Linked DNA regions of Homo sapiens. The protein of the gene in region 5 interacts with the protein of the main gene of each other region in a pairwise test. Each region holds a gene or a part of one and is shown on either strand. Other genes may lie near its edges.

Region 1 (3,520 bases), on a different chromosome or scaffold from region 5:
GGGGTTGGTTTGACACTTCCTTTTTTTTTTTTTTTTTAATTTTTTACCACACTAAATGATTATCTTCATTTTCTTAAAGAAATGTCTTATTTAGGACAACTTCTAAAAGGCTAAAGGACTCACAAACAAAATGTGCCACTGTGGGGCAGGATGTCAAGAGTGGGGCAGGTCACACATGTGCGCCACTGCACTCCAGCCTGTTGACAGAGCGAGACTCTATCTCAAAAAAAAAAAAAAAGTTGATTAATTAAAAAAATAAAGCTTTAAAAAGGTCCACAAAGCCTAAAGGGTGATAACGAGTGCCAACAGCTGAGTACCAACCAGGTCAGAGGACTCAGTTGTGAAATACTCAGTACTCCAGCAAGGAAAAAACACCCTGTGACAGCCCCAAGGTCTTCTGTATTCTCGCTGTAAGCCCAATTTGCTCACGGAAAAATTTAAATAGCACATCCTTAAACAAGTCCCAGATACTCTGGCACTTTCCACTGATAGGCTGCAAAGGGCTTACCATTGAGAGTGACTAGTAGAAGGCTCTTGGTTTTGTTCTTTTGTGTGTTAAGCAGCCATTTCCAGTTGCTTCTGATTCTTATGGCCAGCCTCATTACAAGGTACTACTGCACTTCTGACATCACTGTCCCATCAGTGACTTCATAATTCTAATTATTGCTGCAGTTCTATATCTCCAAAGACTTCTAGTAAATCTTAAGAGACTTAGGGTCAGGAAGCTCTAATGATTTTTCCTCCTCATCTTACTAGTACTCCATAGTCCAAGGAAATAAAATAAATGACTAGATCTATAGTCTTCTGATTTACCCAGGGAAAGGGGCAACATGGACCTCCTGATTTACAGCCAGTTGGTCTGAAAGCACAGATAGGACAAGCTGGGGCTTGCAATTGGCATCAGAAGTTGGGCGCAGTCTTGTAGGACTGAGCCCTGAACCTGTGAGATCTCACCCTATCTCCAGACATAAAGTGTCAGGATGGAACTGAATCAGAAGACACTCAGCTGATGTCTGCTGCAGAACTGATTGATTGGCTGTTGGCAGGAAGAAAGACTCACATACTTAATTTGCTTTCCCTTAAGAAAAAATTTGTCAGCTGGGTACAGTGGTTCACACCTGTAATCCCAGCACTTTGAAAGGATGAGGCAGGAGGACTGCTTGAACCTAGGAGTTTGAGACGAGCCTGGGCAACAAAGTGAGATCCTACCTGTACAAAAAATAAAAAAATTAAGGCCAAGGCAGACGGATCACGAGGTCAGGAGATCGAGATCATCCTGGCTAACACGGTGAAATCCCGTCTCTACTAAAAAATACAAAAAATTAGCCGGGCGTGGTGGTGGGCGCCTGTAGTCCCAGCTGAGCAGAGATCGCACCACTGCACTCTAGCCTGGGTGACAGAGCAAGACTCTGTCTCAAAAAAATAAATAAATAAAAAATAAATAAAATAAAAATTAAAAAAATAAAAAAATTAGCCTGGCATGGTGCTGCATGCCTGTAGTTCCAGCTACACAGGAGGCTGAGGCAGGAGGATCGCTTGAGCCCAGGAAGTTGAGGCTAGAGTGAGCTGTGTTTGCACCACTGCACTCCAGCCTGGGTGACACAGCAAGACTGTGTCTCAAAAAAAAAGAAAAAACTAGTCAAGCAATAACAACCATAAGATCTAACCTAGGTCTCTAATTACATGTGTGATATAGAAGGGTAGGAAAGATAAAATAGAAATTTTGCATACAATGAGAAATAAATAAAAGTTAATGTTAATATTAGGGCAATCACAAAAATGGCATACTGTAAGCTTTAGTATTTTTCTCATTTATTTAATGAAGTATACGCCAGTATTTTACCTTGTTTTTAATCAGCTTGGCTCTTTGAGCAAAGTTAAGTGTTGATAGGGTTTCCCCAAAACACCTGGATCCAGGATGAACATTTGCAATTATGGCTGTTTTGGCATTACCTCCAAGGGAATCCTGTTTAATGATAGGAATGAACATATTTTCGGTGAGAAATCACAAGACCTTTTTAAGCAAAGAAAATGTATACTCTTGCCACCAAGGCTGAGAGACTGTCCCACTATCAACTTTAGCATAACCAAAAGGAGCCCAGGAACCCAAGGATCTACTTTACCCGTAGTAAGAAGGTAAGTTTGGAGTCTCTGTAGCAAACATGTCTCTGTTTTCCATTACCCACGTCGACAAGTGCTGTAATCACTTGGCCCAGGCAGCTCAATGATCGATTTATGTTACCTGCTTCCTAAAGTGTTGACGGAAAAGAACAAAAATTTAGGTACGTTGGTTACTCTTTGGTATTTTGAATGAAAATATATCTAGCAGAGGAAAATTCTGGATGAAAAGGCAAGTCAGGGACAATGTTAATAAAGAACAACTATTCAACAAATAAAAAAGAAGTGCTGAACTATCCCTAACCTTTTCCTATTTGATGTACACTGTAATTTTAGTATTAGAAGACAAACACAGGCTGGCACTGTGGCTCATGCTAGTCATCCCAGCACTTTGGGAGGCCGAGGTGGGCAGGTTGCTTGAGCTCAGGAGTTGGATACCAGCCTGGGCAACATGGCAAAACCCCATCTCTACAAAGAAATACAAAAAACTGCTGGGCATGGTGGCACATGCCTGTAGTCCCAGCTACTTGGGAGGCTGAGGTGGGAGGATCACTTGAGCTTGGGAGGTGGAGGTTGCAGTGAGCTGAGATTGTGCCATTGCACTACAACCTGGGTGACAGAGTGAGACCCTCTCTCAAAAACAACAACAAAAAAAGACAAACACAAAAATCATGCAAAGAAAAAAAATATTAATGTCACTTCATGATTGTAATAGTTTGAAACCGAGCTATAAAGACCAGAAAAAAATAGGGAAAAAAAAGCTAGAGTAGTGCATTAATAGGTACTTTTTTCAATCCTTTTATGCTAAAATATTTAAGGGTATAATGCCTAATAACTCACCCATACAGCCCCCAAAGCCACTGATGAACTTATTTGAGGAGAATATTCAGTTTAATTCTGTAAAGGATAATAAAAACTACTTTAAAACAGAAGCTTGGTGGGGGGAAAAAATGAGCTAAATACGTTACATTAGATTTTTACTGTAGGTAGCATATTTTGAAAACTGGGTCTGCAGTGGAAGGAGTATACAAAAAAGAGAAAAAGTCAAAATTATAATGCAAGATGTACTGAATTCAGAGTCACTGCTGTTATCATTCAGTAAATCAGAAAGGTGGTTAGTGGCATGGTTGAGAGTACTGTAGCAGCTCGGTTTGAATCTCAGCTCTACCTTTATTAGCTGTGTGACTTCGGTTTCTTTAACTGTAAAATAGAAAGAATAGCACCTACTTCCCAGAGTTGTTGGGAAGGTTAAATGAATTAATATATGTAAAGCATTTTAGAACAGACTTGGTATATGTCCTATTATAAGCATATGCTTTTTTTGACACAGAGTCTCACTCTGTCACCCAGGTTGGAGCACAGTGGCACAATCACAGCTCACTGCAATCTCGACCTCCTGGGT
Region 2 (3,520 bases), on a different chromosome or scaffold from region 5:
CAAGGTGAGCAGGACTATATGTCGGAAGGCAGGGGGTCAAGATTACTTTCTTTTTTTGGAACGCATCTCGCTCTGTAGCCCAGGCTGGAGTGCAGTGGTGTGATCTCAGCTCACTGCAACCTCCGTCTGCTGGGTTCAAGCAACTCTTCTGCCTCAGCCTCCCAAGTAGCTGGGACTACAGGTGTGCACCACCATGACTGGCTGATTTTTTTGTATTTTTAGTAAAGATGGGGTTTCACCATGTTGGCCATGCTGGTCTTGATCTCCTGATCTCAGGTGATCTACCTGCCTTCGTCTCCCAAAGTGCTGGGATTACAGGCGTGAGCGACCACGCCTGGCCAAGATTACTTTTGTTTTTTTTTTGAGACAGTCTCACTCTTTTTGCCCAGGGTGGAGTGCAATGGCACGATCTTGGCTCACCGCAACCTCCGCCTCCCGGGTTCAAGTGATTCTCCTGCCTCAGCCTCCCGAGTAGCTGGGATTACAGGCACGCACCACCATGCCTGGCTAATTTTGTATTTTTTAGTAGAGACGGGGTTTCCCCATGTTGGCCAGGCTGGTCTCGGACTCCCGACCTCAGGTGATCTGCCCGCCTTGGCCTCCCAAAGTGCTGGGATTACAGGTGTGAGCCACCGTGCCCAGTCGATTACTTTCTTAATCACAGGGGAAAAGAAAAAAAGTTTAATTACTTCTCTGTTGATTTGCAATCAAAAGAAATAAAAGTATTTTGTTTCTTTCCTTTTTTTTTTTTTTGTTTTTAAGAGACAGGGTCTTACTACGTTACCCAGTCTGGCTCAAACTCCTGGGCTCAAGAGATCCTCCCACCTCACCTCAGAAAGTGCTGGGACTACAGGTTTGAGCCACCCAGCCTGGCCAAAAGTATTTTCTAACACTATAGTTATGATACAATGTTCTATTTGATCGGGAAAGGTAAAATTAAATGTATAAAGTTCTTGGAGAAACGTCAAGAACTAAGAAAAGCACTTCTTTCAGTGAGTCTAAAGTATTAAATGCTGTAGTTTATCAGGGCACTTCCTTCTAGTGTTTTTCAGTGCCCTGGAAAGTGAACTTTAAAAAAAAAAAAAAAACAGATACAACTACTTCACAAGATTTGTCACTAAAAATGCTTTGAGTCTGCAGAACTGCCACCTACTGAAGCTGTATCATGATCATAAGCATTCTGAACACATTAACAAGTCCTAAAGGGATGTGACATCAAGAAGAACAGACAAACCTTCTGCCTTGCACAACCAGAAGTTATCAACTTTCAGAAGATCATTCTAATCCTTAAACAACCTGCCCTACACAGCCTCCAATGATGACTATACAGTAGGTAACTGCTTTAAAAAGTGATGAGTCAGGTTACAGTTATAGAAAAGAAAAGCTGAGTTAAAATGTTCCACAATTTACAGCCAAAGCACCATGTAAGCATGAAAAATGCCTTAACACAAACTCACCTGATTTATTTGAAGCATGTTAAGACAATATTGACCAAACTGCTGTATCCCTCACGGCTCCAAAAACTGGAAAACGAAAATGAAGAAATAAAGTTCAACTTAGCTGATAACCTCAATGACTGGTATTTTAAACACATGCCCTTGATCAAAATCAAATATAAAATGTAATTTATCCAGATCTCCATAGAACTTTCTATGATGATAAAAATGTTCTGTACTTGCACTGTCCAATCTGGAAGTCATTAGCCACATGTGGCTACTGAGCACTTGAAATGTGGCTAGAGCAATCAAGAAAATAATATTTAATTTTCTTTCATGTTCACTTGAATAACTACGTCACTAGTAGCCACCATACTGGACAGTACAGATCTGAACAAAGCTCCTTCTGCTTCTAGACTTCTAAGACAATCCCAACAAAAGTGAAGCTGTTAAAAATAAATCTGAGAGTTTCAGGTTAATATTTAATGTATACTTCCCTTTTTGCAGTCCTGTTTTAAACAGCTTTGTTCCCATCTTCTATACGATAAATTAATCCTAAAGAAGATGCAACACCACAAGTATTCTCTTAGATGGTATGGAAAAGAGCATATAGTACAATTATCTTGCTGAATAGTTTCTTTTTCTCTGTCATTTTGTCTGTTATCATCAGTATAAAAATAGTATGTATATTAAAATTTCAGGCTGGGCGTGGTAATCCCAGCATTTTGGGAGGCCAAGGTGGGTGGATCATTTGAGTTCAGGAGTTCGGGACCAGCCTGGCCAACATGGTGAAAACCCTGCCTCTACCAAAAATACAAAAATTAGCCAGGCATGGTGGCGCGTGCCTGTAATCTCAGCTACTCAGGAGGCTGAGGCAGGAGAATTGCTTGAACCCAGGAGGCAGAGGTTGCAGTGAGCCGAGATTGCGCCATTGCACTCCAGCCTAGGCGACAGAGCGAGACTCCATCTCAAAAAAAAAAAAAAAAAAAATTTTAATTTGAAAACAGATGCCAATGAAGGGCAGGAAAGTCCAAATTACAAATAAATAAATCATGGGATCTTGTAATGAAAAAAAGTTTATATAAAATATAAATTATATACAGACCTCTCCCCTAAAAATTATCTAAAGCAACAACACAATTGTGATACACAGCAAAAGGCCTATATCTAATCACCTGTATAGAAACTGTTATGCTGCTAAATTTTAATATTGAACTTTCCCCTGGAAGCAAACGTTTTGTAAGTACACACATACATACACAAACACACACCCATATTTGGCTACCATTTTTTCAAGATGACAAACTAGAGTCCATTCAAAATGACTTTGAAAACTTTAATATTTTTCTTACAATAGTGTCCTCAGCATCTGCATCAATTTTTATTTATTTTCTAATTACTGTCACATTTCCTATGAGAACGGGATGCTGTATAAAGAGCACACGGCCTGGATATTGGTGAATTTGAGTTTTAGTCAAAGTTCTTCAGATTACCTTCTGAGCCTTGGTTCAAATTACTTTGTGTATCTTTGAGTTCTTCTTTTTCTGTCTTCTTTTTTTTCTTCAATCTTTAAAAAGTAAGCTAAAGTCCTTGTGGTAGGCAGCCTCTAACAAATAGAATATAGCAGAAATAATGAGATACCACTTCCAAGATTAGGTTATAAAAATTCTTAGGTGTCACCTTCTCTCACTCATTTGCTCAGAGGGAGGCAGATGCCAAACTGTGGTGCCCTTTGGAGAGGCCCATATGGCAAAGAACTGAGAAAAGCCTCTGGCCAACAGCCAGCAACAATTGATTTCTTCAGTCCAAGAGCCCCAGGAAACTGAACCCTGCAAGAGCCACATGAATGAGTTCAGAAACAGATCTTCCACCAGTAGAGCTTCCAGATGTGACTGCAACCCCAACTGACAGCTTGACTACCACCTCTTTTATGAGCCACAGGCACCCAGCTAAGCTGCACCCAGATTTCTAACCCACAGAAACTGTAAGATAATGTTTGTTGTCTTAAGTCCTTAAATTCTGGTGCAATGTGCTATGCAACAATAAATAAGACTATCCTGTCCAACTCTATAATTCAATATTCC
Region 3 (3,520 bases), on a different chromosome or scaffold from region 5:
GAAGTCCATGACAAAGTGTTAGCTCTTTTTTTTTTTTTTTTTTTTTTTTTTTTTGAGATGGAGTCTCTCTCTATTGCCCAGGCTGGAGTGCAGTGATTCGATCTCAGCTCACTGCAACCTCTACCTCCCGAGTTCAAACAATTCTTCTGTCTCAGCCTCCCGAGTAGCTGGGGCTGCAGGTGCCCACCACCATGCCCAGCTAATTTTTGTATTTTTAGTAGCGACAGGGTCTCACCATGTTGGCCAAGCTGGTCTTGAATTCCTGATCTCAGGTGATCCACCCGCCTCGGCCTCCCAAAGTGCTGGGATTACAGGTGTGAGCCACCATGCCCAGCCTACCCTTTACTACTAATCAAAGAAATAAAAGTAAGGCAACTTGATACTTTTACAATTACTAGATGAACAAATCTTTAAAAATAGCCAGTGCAGACAAGGTGGTGAAGCAGAACATGCGAACCTACCATGCATCATTCACGGCTAGAACCCTCCAGGTGCGGAAGGTAGTATTTTAATAACTTTCCATAGCTACAAAATATTATTACATAGAAGGGAGTGATTTTTTTCTAATATTTATCCTAAAGAAATAGTCAACAAACATTTTTAAAAACATCAATTACAGTCGTACCTATACTAGCATAAATTAGAAACCCAGTATCCAACATTGAGGCAGTGGGTAAATGAATCGTGGTTTATCAAGTCATTAAAATCAATCTAGCCTTTAAAAACTATAATTGTAGGAAACCCAGGAAAACATAGTAAAAAATGGAATATAAAATCTGAAGAGAATAAAGAATAGAGAATCGTATGTGTGCTATGATTGTAGCTAAATAATGTTCAAGTATCAACACAAATTGAAAAGGAATACATGAAAATGAAAATTATATTTCTGAATGATTGACTTCAGGATTTTCTTTTAGAATTGTATTAAATAGTTCATGTCATTAGGATAAATGCTGGAATGTGGATATAATTTAAAATATACTAAATGCCATCGACCTTCATTTTGAGTTCTTTGTTGGACATTTTTGTGCATTTTTAAAATATCCCCTAAATAATAAAGCTATTTATATTTGGAGAGGAGAAAAAAAAGTGGGGGGCAGGGAGAGCTGATCTCTATAACTAACCAAATTTATTGCTTTTTTGTTTAGGCCTGAAGTTTCCACAAATAAGACCTACTCCTTCCTAATTTACACAGAGGTAGATATTGGAGAACTACTCATGTTGAAGCTCAAATGGAAGAGTGATTCATACTTTAGCTGGTCAGACTGGTGGAGCAGTCCCGGCTTCGCCATTCAGAAGATCAGAGTAAAAGCAGGAGAGACTCAGAAAAAGTAATTAAATGTATTTTTCTTCCTTCACTTTAGACCCCCACCTGATGTCAGGACCTAGGGGCTGTATTTCAGGGGCCTTCACAATTCAGGGAGAGCTTTAGGAAACCTTGTATTTATTACTGTATGATGTAGATTTTCTTTAGGAGTCTTCTTTTATTTTCTTATTTTTGGGGGGCAGGGGGGGGGAAGTGACAGTATTTTTGTATTTCATGTAAGGAAAACATAAGCCCTGAATCGCTCACAGTTATTCAGTGAGAGCTGGGATTAGAAGTCAGGAATCTCAGCTTCTCATTTGGCACTGTTTCTTGTAAGTACAAAATAGTTAGGGAACAAACCTCCGAGATGCTACCTGGATAATCAAAGATTCAAACCAACCTCTTCAAGAAGGGTGAGATTCCAAGATAATCTCAACCTGTCTCCGCAGCCCCACCCATGTGTACCCATAAAATGAATTACACAGAGATCGCTATAGGATTTAAAGCTTTTATACTAAATGTGCTGGGATTTTGCAAACTATAGTGTGCTGTTATTGTTAATTTAAAAAAACTCTAAGTTAGGATTGACAAATTATTTCTCTTTAGTCATTTGCTTGTATCACCAAAGAAGCAAACAAACAAACAAAAAAAAAAAGAAAAAGATCTTGGGGATGGAAATGTTATAAAGAATCTTTTTTACACTAGCAATGTCTAGCTGAAGGCAGATGCCCTAATTCCTTAATGCAGATGCTAAGAGATGGCAGAGTTGATCTTTTATCATCTCTTGGTGAAAGCCCAGTAACATAAGACTGCTCTAGGCTGTCTGCATGCCTGTCTATCTAAATTAACTAGCTTGGTTGCTGAACACCAGGTTAGGCTCTCAAATTACCCTCTGATTCTGATGTGGCCTGAGTGTGACAGTTAATTATTGGGAATATCAAAACAATTACCCAGCATGATCATGTATTATTTAAACAGTCCTGACAGAACTGTACCTTTGTGAACAGTGCTTTTGATTGTTCTACATGGCATATTCACATCCATTTTCTTCCACAGGGTGATCTTCTGTTCTAGGGAGAAAGTGTCTCATTTGCAGAAAGGAAAGGCACCTGCGGTATTTGTGAAATGCCATGACAAGTCTCTGAATAAGAAGTCAGGCTGGTGAGCATTCTGGGCTAAAGCTGACTGGGCATCCTGAGCTTGCACCCTAAGGGAGGCAGCTTCATGCATTCCTCTTCACCCCATCACCAGCAGCTTGCCCTGACTCATGTGATCAAAGCATTCAATCAGTCTTTCTTAGTCCTTCTGCATATGTATCAAATGGGTCTGTTGCTTTATGCAATACTTCCTCTTTTTTTCTTTCTCCTCTTGTTTCTCCCAGCCCGGACCTTCAACCCAGGCACACATTTTAGGTTTTATTTTACTCCTTGAACTACCCCTGAATCTTCACTTCTCCTTTTTTCTCTACTGCGTCTCTGCTGACTTTGCAGATGCCATCTGCAGAGCATGTAACACAAGTTTAGTAGTTGCCGTTCTGGCTGTGGGTGCAGCTCTTCCCAGGATGTATTCAGGGAAGTAAAAAGATCTCACTGCATCACCTGCAGCCACATAGTTCTTGATTCTCCAAGTGCCAGCATACTCCGGGACACACAGCCAACAGGGCTGCCCCAAGCACCCATCTCAAAACCCTCAAAGCTGCCAAGCAAACAGAATGAGAGTTATAGGAAACTGTTCTCTCTTCTATCTCCAAACAACTCTGTGCCTCTTTCCTACCTGACCTTTAGGGCTAATCCATGTGGCAGCTGTTAGCTGCATCTTTCCAGAGCGTCAGTACTGAGAGGACACTAAGCATGTGACCTTCACTACTCCTGTTCTGAATTCCAGGAATATGCCCTTTTCAACCCTCCACACATCCCCTGCCAGACAGCAAGTGCTAATGGGTTACAGGAACAAAGGGGAGAAATATTAGATCATGTCATACAAGCCAGTGACACAAGAAATGAAGGGAAAGGCTAGACACAGTGTCATCTGGAAACAGGAAAAGCAATTGCTTTTGGTTTGTTCTTTTCCTAGTTTGCATTTGGGACAAATGTATAGAATAAGAATTGCCTTCATGCCTGCAATCCCAGCACTTTGGGAGGCTGAGGCAGGTGGATCACCTGAGGTCAGGAGTTTGAGACCAGCCTGGCCAACGTGGCGAAACCACCTCTCTAC
Region 4 (3,520 bases), on a different chromosome or scaffold from region 5:
AGGTTGGAGTAGGAGTGGGGAATGCCAGTAGTGAATGTGATGTTCTGCAGAATGTTGAAGGGAGAAACTTTTATTTATTTATTTTTTAAGGACTTTGAGACTGAAAGTTATTCTAGTGTTGGAGGGGAAGGCAGAAGGTCATGGTGTCACAGTTGCAGATGAGGAAAGATGGCTTTCTCCTTAGACTACATTTCTTGTTGAAAAATCCATTGTTGGCCTGAAGCAGGTAAACCAGTTGTCAGGAAATTAATGACAAAGGTCCTTTAATGGATCATATTCTGTCAGGGGGAAAGGTCCCTGGCTTTTAAGACAGAAGAACATTCCCTTTTGCCCATTCTAGTATTTTATTCTACTACCAGAGAGGCTTATAGAGATTAAGACCCACTGAATAACAGTAGGGCCCTAATGAAATTTTTAGTATTGACGTGTAGTTGATAGAATCTACATATATGTATGTGATTATTTTTGTTGGTTACTTATTGTATAACTTAAAAAATAGATTTGTTGAGATATAATTCACAAAAAAAGGAAATCCATCCATCTAAAGTATAAAATTCGGTGGTTTTTAATATATTCGGAGTTGTGTGGCCATCACAGCCATTCAATTTTAGAATAGTTTCATCACTTTAAAAAGAAACCTCATACCTATTAGCAGGCATTCCTCTTTCTACCTCCCCTTAGCCACCATGAATTTTCTATCAATGGCTTCTGCACACACCATATAAATGGAATAATATATGGCCTTTTGTGTCTGGCTTCTTACATTCAGCCTGATGTTTTCAAGGATCTTCCATGTTGTAGCATGTATCAGGACTTCATTACTTATTATAGCTACATAATATTCTATTGTATTGATACACCATTTTGTTTATCCATTTGTCTGTTGATAGATACTGTTGTTTCTTTTTCTATTTTCTAGTGCATCATTTTAATTCCCTTTTTTGTTATATGTTTTTGAGTTCTTTTTTAAAAATTCCCTTGGGGATTACAATTATCTTAATTTTTCACAATCTAATTTTGATTAATAGCAACTTAATTTTAATACTGTGTAAAACTTTGCTCTTATGTGGCTCTGTTTTCTCCCATATTTTTGTGCCATTATTGCTATACGAATGACATCTTTCTACATTGTGTGCCATCATCAATACAGCTTTACAATTATTGCTGTATGCAGTTAATTTTTTTTTCTTTTTTCTTTTTGAGACAGGGTCTCTCTCTGTTGCTCAGACTGGAGTGCAGTGGTGAGATCTCAGCTCACCGCAACCTCTGTCTCCCAGGTTCAAGTGATTCTCCTGCCTCAGTCTCCCAAGTAGCTAGGATTACAGGCACCCGCCACCACACCCGGCTAATTGTTTATATTTTTAGTAGTAATGGGGTTTTGCCATGTTGGCCAGGCTGGTCTCGAACTCCTGGCCTCAAGTGATCCACCCATCTTAGCCTCCCAAAGTGCTGAGGGATTACAGGCATGAGCTATCACTCCCAGCCTGCAGTTAAATTTTAATCTAGTGGAGGAAAAGGGCTACAAAGAAAAACCACGTTTATACTGTTTTTTATATTTACTATGCAGTTACATTTTTACTGGTGCTTATTATTTCTTTGTGTGGATTTAAGTTACTGTCTAGTTTCCTTTCAGCTTAGTCTTGAGAGTTGTCTGTAGTATTTCTTGTAGGATAGGTCTGCTAGAGATGACTTTTCTCAGTTTTGTCTTAATTTATCCTTTAATTTTAGAGGACCGCTATGTTACTGATTTTTAAGTTCTTTGAATATATTTATAATTCCTGATGTAAAGTCTTTGTCTAATAAGTTTAACATCTGGGCCTCCTCAGGAATAATTTCTATTCGTTGTTTTTTTCCTGCGCATGAGCCATACTTTCCTGTTTCTTTGTGTGTCTTATACGTTTTGCTGAAAACTGGACATTTAAAATAATGTGTCTATTCTAGAAACTCAGATTCTTTCCCCTACCTGGGTTTCTTGTTTTTACTGCATATTTATTTATTTTTGTCGTTGCTGTTTGTTTAATTATGTTTCTGGGATAATTCTGCAAAATCTGTATTCTTTGTATGCAGCTACTGAAGTCTCTGCTCAGTCAACTTAGTGGACAGCTAATGAGTGGAGAGAGTTTATTAAATTCCTTGAACTAATAAGTCTCTTAGCTTTTTCTGAGAGTCTCTGTGTGTTTGTTGGGGTATGTGTTTAATACTACTGCAGGCAGTTTACAACTCTGCCTTAGCTTTTATTTTCTGCCTGAGAAGAACCTCAAAGTCAGTCAGAAGTGAGAGATTAGGACCTTTTTAGATCTTTCCTGGGCATTTGTAGAGCCCTGCCCATGAACATGGCCTTTTAGGTTCCAAGGAATATTTGGGAGCATTATAGAAATCTCATTTCCTATTTTTTTCTTTAAATTTTTTTTTTGTTGTTGTTGTTAGACTTTTGTTAGCCCTAACTGGTATTGCTACCTCTGGTAGCTGTGATGTTAAATAATTACTGCTGATAGTTTTCAACAAATGCCCTTGGGATAGGGCTGTTCTCAAAGAGCAAGCTTTGAGTGAGGTCAAAGAAAGACAAAGCTGGGGCATGGAGCTTTCCAAGGGGCTTCCTGACAATTTTTCTCAGTATGGGACTTTTAGGGAGCTCCAAACCTGTTGTTCCTCTGCTGTCCACAGTGGTGGCTAGGCTGATGTTTTCACAACAACCACATTTGTGCACATGGTTTTTAAGTCTTCTAAAAGCTTGAGTGAGGGGGATGGGAATAGGGCAAGGTAAAAAACACCTCAAAGCTTACTGTTTTTACTGATATTCGGCTGTTTTTCTTGAATAAATGCTCCTTGGAATGTTGCAAGTCTTTGTTAATTCCTAGAGTACTGAAAAAGTTGATTTGGACAATTTTTACCACTGTTTTTGTTGCTATTGTGGAGGAAGAAATTTTTGATGGTCCGTTCTCTGCTGTTCTAGGAGTGTTGTCTATAAAATTCTTTTAAGAGCACTTTTAAAATTTGGGATGGGACAAGGGAAAATTGTTCTACCAAAAATACATCTGCACTCAAATGTTTATTGCAGCACTATTCACAATAGCAAAGTCATGGAACTAACCCTAGGTGCTTATCAGTGGTGGATTGGATAGAGAAAATGTGGTACATATACATCATAGAATACTATGCAGCCATAAAAAAGTGAAATTATGTCTTTTGCAGCAACATGGATAGAGCTGGGGACCATTATCCTCAGTGAATTAATGCAGAAACAGAAAATCAAATGCCACATGCATTCTCACTTATAAGTGGGAACTAAACAATGGGTACGCATGGACATAAAGACAGAAACAGTAGACACTAGGGACTCCAAAAGGGGGAAGGGAGTGGGAGAGGGGCTGAAAAACTACTTATTGGGTACTACATTCACTGTTTGGGTGATGAATTCAATAGATGCTCAAACCCCAGCATTATGCAATCTATCTACGTAACAAGCCTGCACATGTACCCCCTGGTTAAACAAACAAAAAAGATGAGATTGGGAAAAGCC
Region 5 (3,520 bases):
CATCACACTCGATAGACTGTCTTACCACTTGATAAGACTTGGATGCCCTGACAGGTCTGTTCCAACAAACAGCACAAACACACACACTCCCACCCACCTGTCTTTTTTTCCCCCCAGGCTCACTGATGGGATCTTACTTTTACTATAGAAAGTGAAGTGAACCCATTCAGCTGGGCCCAGTGGCTCACATCTGTAATCCTAGCACTTTGGGAGGCCGAGGTAGGCAGATTGCTTGAGTCCAGGAGTTCGAAACCAGCCTGGGCAACGTGGTGAAACCATATCTCTACAAAAAATACAAAAATTAGCTGTGTGTTGTGGTGCATGCTTGTAGTACCATCTACTTAAGAGGCTGAGGCAGGAAGATTGCTTGAGACTGCGAGGTGGAGGTTGCAGTGAGCCGAGATTATGCCACTGCACTCCAGCCTAGGCAACAGAGTGAGACCCTGTCTATAAATAAATAAATAAATTGTATTTTGCTAATACATACATAATAAAACATAGTTTTGTACCTTGTGTTTCTAAAAGGTACTGCCCCATGCTCATGAGATTTTGAAACTTAGGTACATAATACATTTCTAATGGCATATACTTTTGTATAACCCCCTTAGGAGCCAAGTTTTCTATAATGCACTAAAAGATATAAAAATGCATATGCCTTTTGTCCTCATATCTACCCCAGAGAATTTTCTCCAAGGGAATAATTCAGGAGGTTTTTATTAAATCATTACTATATTCTAAGAACCATGCCAGGCGTGAGAGTTACAGAAATGTAGAGAAGACACTTATCATGTACTCATGAAGGTGTCATCAAGTCATCTAGTGGAGGTTAGAAAAGGCTTCAAGGTAGAACGAACTGCTTGAGATGGCCCTGAAAGGATGAGTAGAGTTAGCCAAGCATGTGCCAAGAGATAATGGTATGATACATCACGGGTTGTTCTGTTTATAATTATCTTAGTGCGTCTGGACATAGGATTCATACAGGGAAATGTTAAGAAATAAAGTTGAAAAAACAAACTATATTATAGAATGGTTTATATATAGGTCCAAGAACTTTGGAATTTTTCATGAAGGTGATAGGGAGCTTTTGGAGAACAACAAAGAGAAACACAATCAGATTTGCATTTAGCTGACTTTGTGTAGGTTCAAATAGAGGTTTAGAGTAAGAAGAATTAGAGGAGCACTGTAGTCGTCCAAGCAAGGGATTTAGAGTACCTGAGTTAAGGGAGAGGAAGAAGGTACAGTAGAGGAAAAATCGAATCAACATAGCTTTAATAGATTTGGGGAAAAAATGGGTTATATAATACATAGTTATTTGTGATGGCAACATTTTAAACAACCTAACTGGATAAAAGACTAAGTTGGGAGAGGAGAAGTGAGGATAGAGTGGGGTAGAATAAGCTATGCTTTAAAATCACATGTTACAATACATATTATTCTTGGTTTTGTTTTTTTAATGTTAAGTATATAAAAATTCCCTTCTTTTGGACAGGTATTTAGCAGTGTTTTTTTTATGGAACTCCTACCTTTACCATACAGCTTGTATAAAAAAACAAAATTTAACCAGCCATCTAATTTTTTTAAACTTGAATACCATATTTGAAATGATACAAAAGCAGCAGGATTCTTTATATTAATAATTAATAATTCAGCAGGAAACATACTATACTATTATACTTATATATAAAGAAAGTAGAAAATCATTTGGTTAAATTGAAGACTATATAGTTGTCAGAACATTACAAACATTACATTTGTGATTTTCTTTATGCTGTCGTGATGAGACTTCAAACATGTCAAACAGAGAACAGAACTGTCTCCTCCTTGCTTCTCACTTAAGCCAAAGCATCTTCCTCCCCTCAACCTCATGTTGGCCCTGTGCACCCTGAAAGGAAGTTGCACTTTTCTTTACTGCCGAGTTGTCACTTTTAATACCTAGACATCTTGTTGAAGTCTGGCTCTTGTTAAAATATTCTATCAGAGAAAAACAGTTTTTCTGTGCTAGCAAAGAACCAAATTTTCTTCCCTTTTGGTTTGATTTTTATAAATCCTTTAAAAGAAATCTTTAAGTAAAAATATGTTTGTGAGTGTGTTTGGGTCTTTGTCTTGAAGTAGTGTAAAATTTTATTTAAAATGAAGGTAAAATGAATTATGGCCTATGGTATAAAGATGGTTAAATAGCAACACAAAAGAAAACAAATAAGCCCCCATCAGCAAAGGTCTAAACAACAAAATGTTCAAATAAACCTGTTATTCTGAAATATGTAATAATAGAGTTTCTTTATAATATTGATGCTGAAGCACTATAGGATCCTGAAATTAACATGTTGAATTAACAAATTATGTACCGCATAGTTTATTATTGAGTGTATTTCTAGTATTCTGTTTTACCATTAATAATCAATTTATGAGATTTTTACAATCTTGATTAAATGCAGCCTTTAAAGAGAATTTTGGACCTCCATCTTAGCGTAAAAAGTTTTTAAACAAGCTGTTTGTTCTAAAAAAGACAAATAGATATGCCCTACAATCTATAACTTCAGTATAATCTCATATATTTCTACATCTAATGATGAGGTACTAAATGTGATTACACGGTAATTCAATGAACTTTTTTTTTTTTTTTTGAGACAGAGTCTCGCTGTGTTGCCCAGGCTGGAGTATAGTGGCGTGTTCTTAGCTCACTGCAGACTCAACCCCCTCCAAGCTCAAGCGATCTTCCCACATCAGCCTCCCAAGTAGCTGGGGCTGCAGGCATACACCACCACACCTGGCTGATTTTTGCATTTTTTGTAGAGCCGGGGTTTCACCATATTGCCCAGGCTCATCTCAAACTCCTGGGCTCAAGCAGTCTGCCCACCTTGGCCTCCCAAATTGTTGGGATTACAGGTGTGAGCCACTGCGCCCAGCCAAATGAACTTCTTTTAATTCAAAATCATTAAAAACAGAAGACTCATGAAAAACAGAAAATTACTCTGACAAATTTGATAAAGATACTTAATAATGTCAATTAAAACGCAACTAAATAAATTGGAGAAATTACTCATATTGCTACAACTTATTTAAGGAGAGTTTAATTTTATAAAATAAATTTCAAGTGAATAGATGATTAGGATAACCAAAATATTCCTCTTTTTCTCTGACAAGCTTCTGGATACACAGATGACTATACATAGTTTTCCTAGTGGTTTTTTATAACCACTAAGTCACTAAGTAAATAACTAAACTGTATTCCTAACCATTCTAGTTATATTGCTATTTGATTGTTTAATATTTGAAAATGTACTTTCCTACTATAGATTAAGGGATCTGGTGAAACATTTACTCCATCTACTTTCTATTAGTAAAATACAATCTTCTTATTTCATTTTCTTATATTCATGACTATGAGGGCAACTTGTTAGTAAGTACTCAAATATCTGTGTAATGAGGCCAAGCACGGTGGCTCACGCCTGTAATCACACCACTATGGGAGGCCGAGGCAGGTGGATCACCTGAGGTTAGGAGTTCGAGACCAGGCTGA

What was found.
Region 1: the proteins of CEP126 (region 5) and KIF15 interact in a two-hybrid assay, tested with the Homo sapiens proteins (one large-scale study listed by BioGRID and IntAct).
Region 2: the proteins of CEP126 (region 5) and STAU2 interact in a two-hybrid assay, tested with the Homo sapiens proteins (one large-scale study listed by BioGRID and IntAct).
Region 3: the proteins of CEP126 (region 5) and LPL interact in a two-hybrid assay, tested with the Homo sapiens proteins (one large-scale study listed by BioGRID and IntAct).
Region 4: the proteins of CEP126 (region 5) and RAB27A interact in a two-hybrid assay, tested with the Homo sapiens proteins (one large-scale study listed by BioGRID and IntAct).

Annotation. Positions count from the first base shown.
Region 1 is NC_000003.12:44,796,280-44,799,799, reverse strand, and holds part of KIF15 (kinesin-like protein KIF15), read right to left. Parts: intron 2,250-3,520; coding exon 2,124-2,249; intron 1,967-2,123; coding exon 1,844-1,966; intron 606-1,843; exon of another isoform or gene 512-605; coding exon of another isoform or gene 509-511; intron 1-508. UniProt on the Homo sapiens protein: Plus-end directed kinesin-like motor enzyme involved in mitotic spindle assembly.
Region 2 is NC_000008.11:73,736,827-73,740,346, forward strand, and holds part of STAU2 (double-stranded RNA-binding protein Staufen homolog 2), read right to left. Parts: intron 3,043-3,520; 5' UTR 2,930-3,042; intron 1,524-2,929; 5' UTR 1,476-1,523; coding exon of another isoform or gene 1,458-1,475; intron 1-1,457. UniProt on the Homo sapiens protein: RNA-binding protein required for the microtubule-dependent transport of neuronal RNA from the cell body to the dendrite.
Region 3 is NC_000008.11:19,959,753-19,963,272, forward strand, and holds part of LPL (lipoprotein lipase precursor), read left to right. Parts: intron 1-1,148; coding exon 1,149-1,331; intron 1,332-2,362; coding exon 2,363-2,467; intron 2,468-3,520. UniProt on the Homo sapiens protein: Key enzyme in triglyceride metabolism.
Region 4 is NC_000015.10:55,230,805-55,234,324, reverse strand, and holds part of RAB27A (ras-related protein Rab-27A), read left to right. Parts: intron 1-3,520. UniProt on the Homo sapiens protein: Small GTPase which cycles between active GTP-bound and inactive GDP-bound states. In its active state, binds to a variety of effector proteins to regulate homeostasis of late endocytic pathway, including endosomal positioning, maturation and secretion.
Region 5 is NC_000011.10:101,917,998-101,921,517, forward strand, and holds part of CEP126 (centrosomal protein of 126 kDa), read left to right. Parts: intron 1-3,520. UniProt on the Homo sapiens protein: Participates in cytokinesis. Necessary for microtubules and mitotic spindle organization. Involved in primary cilium formation.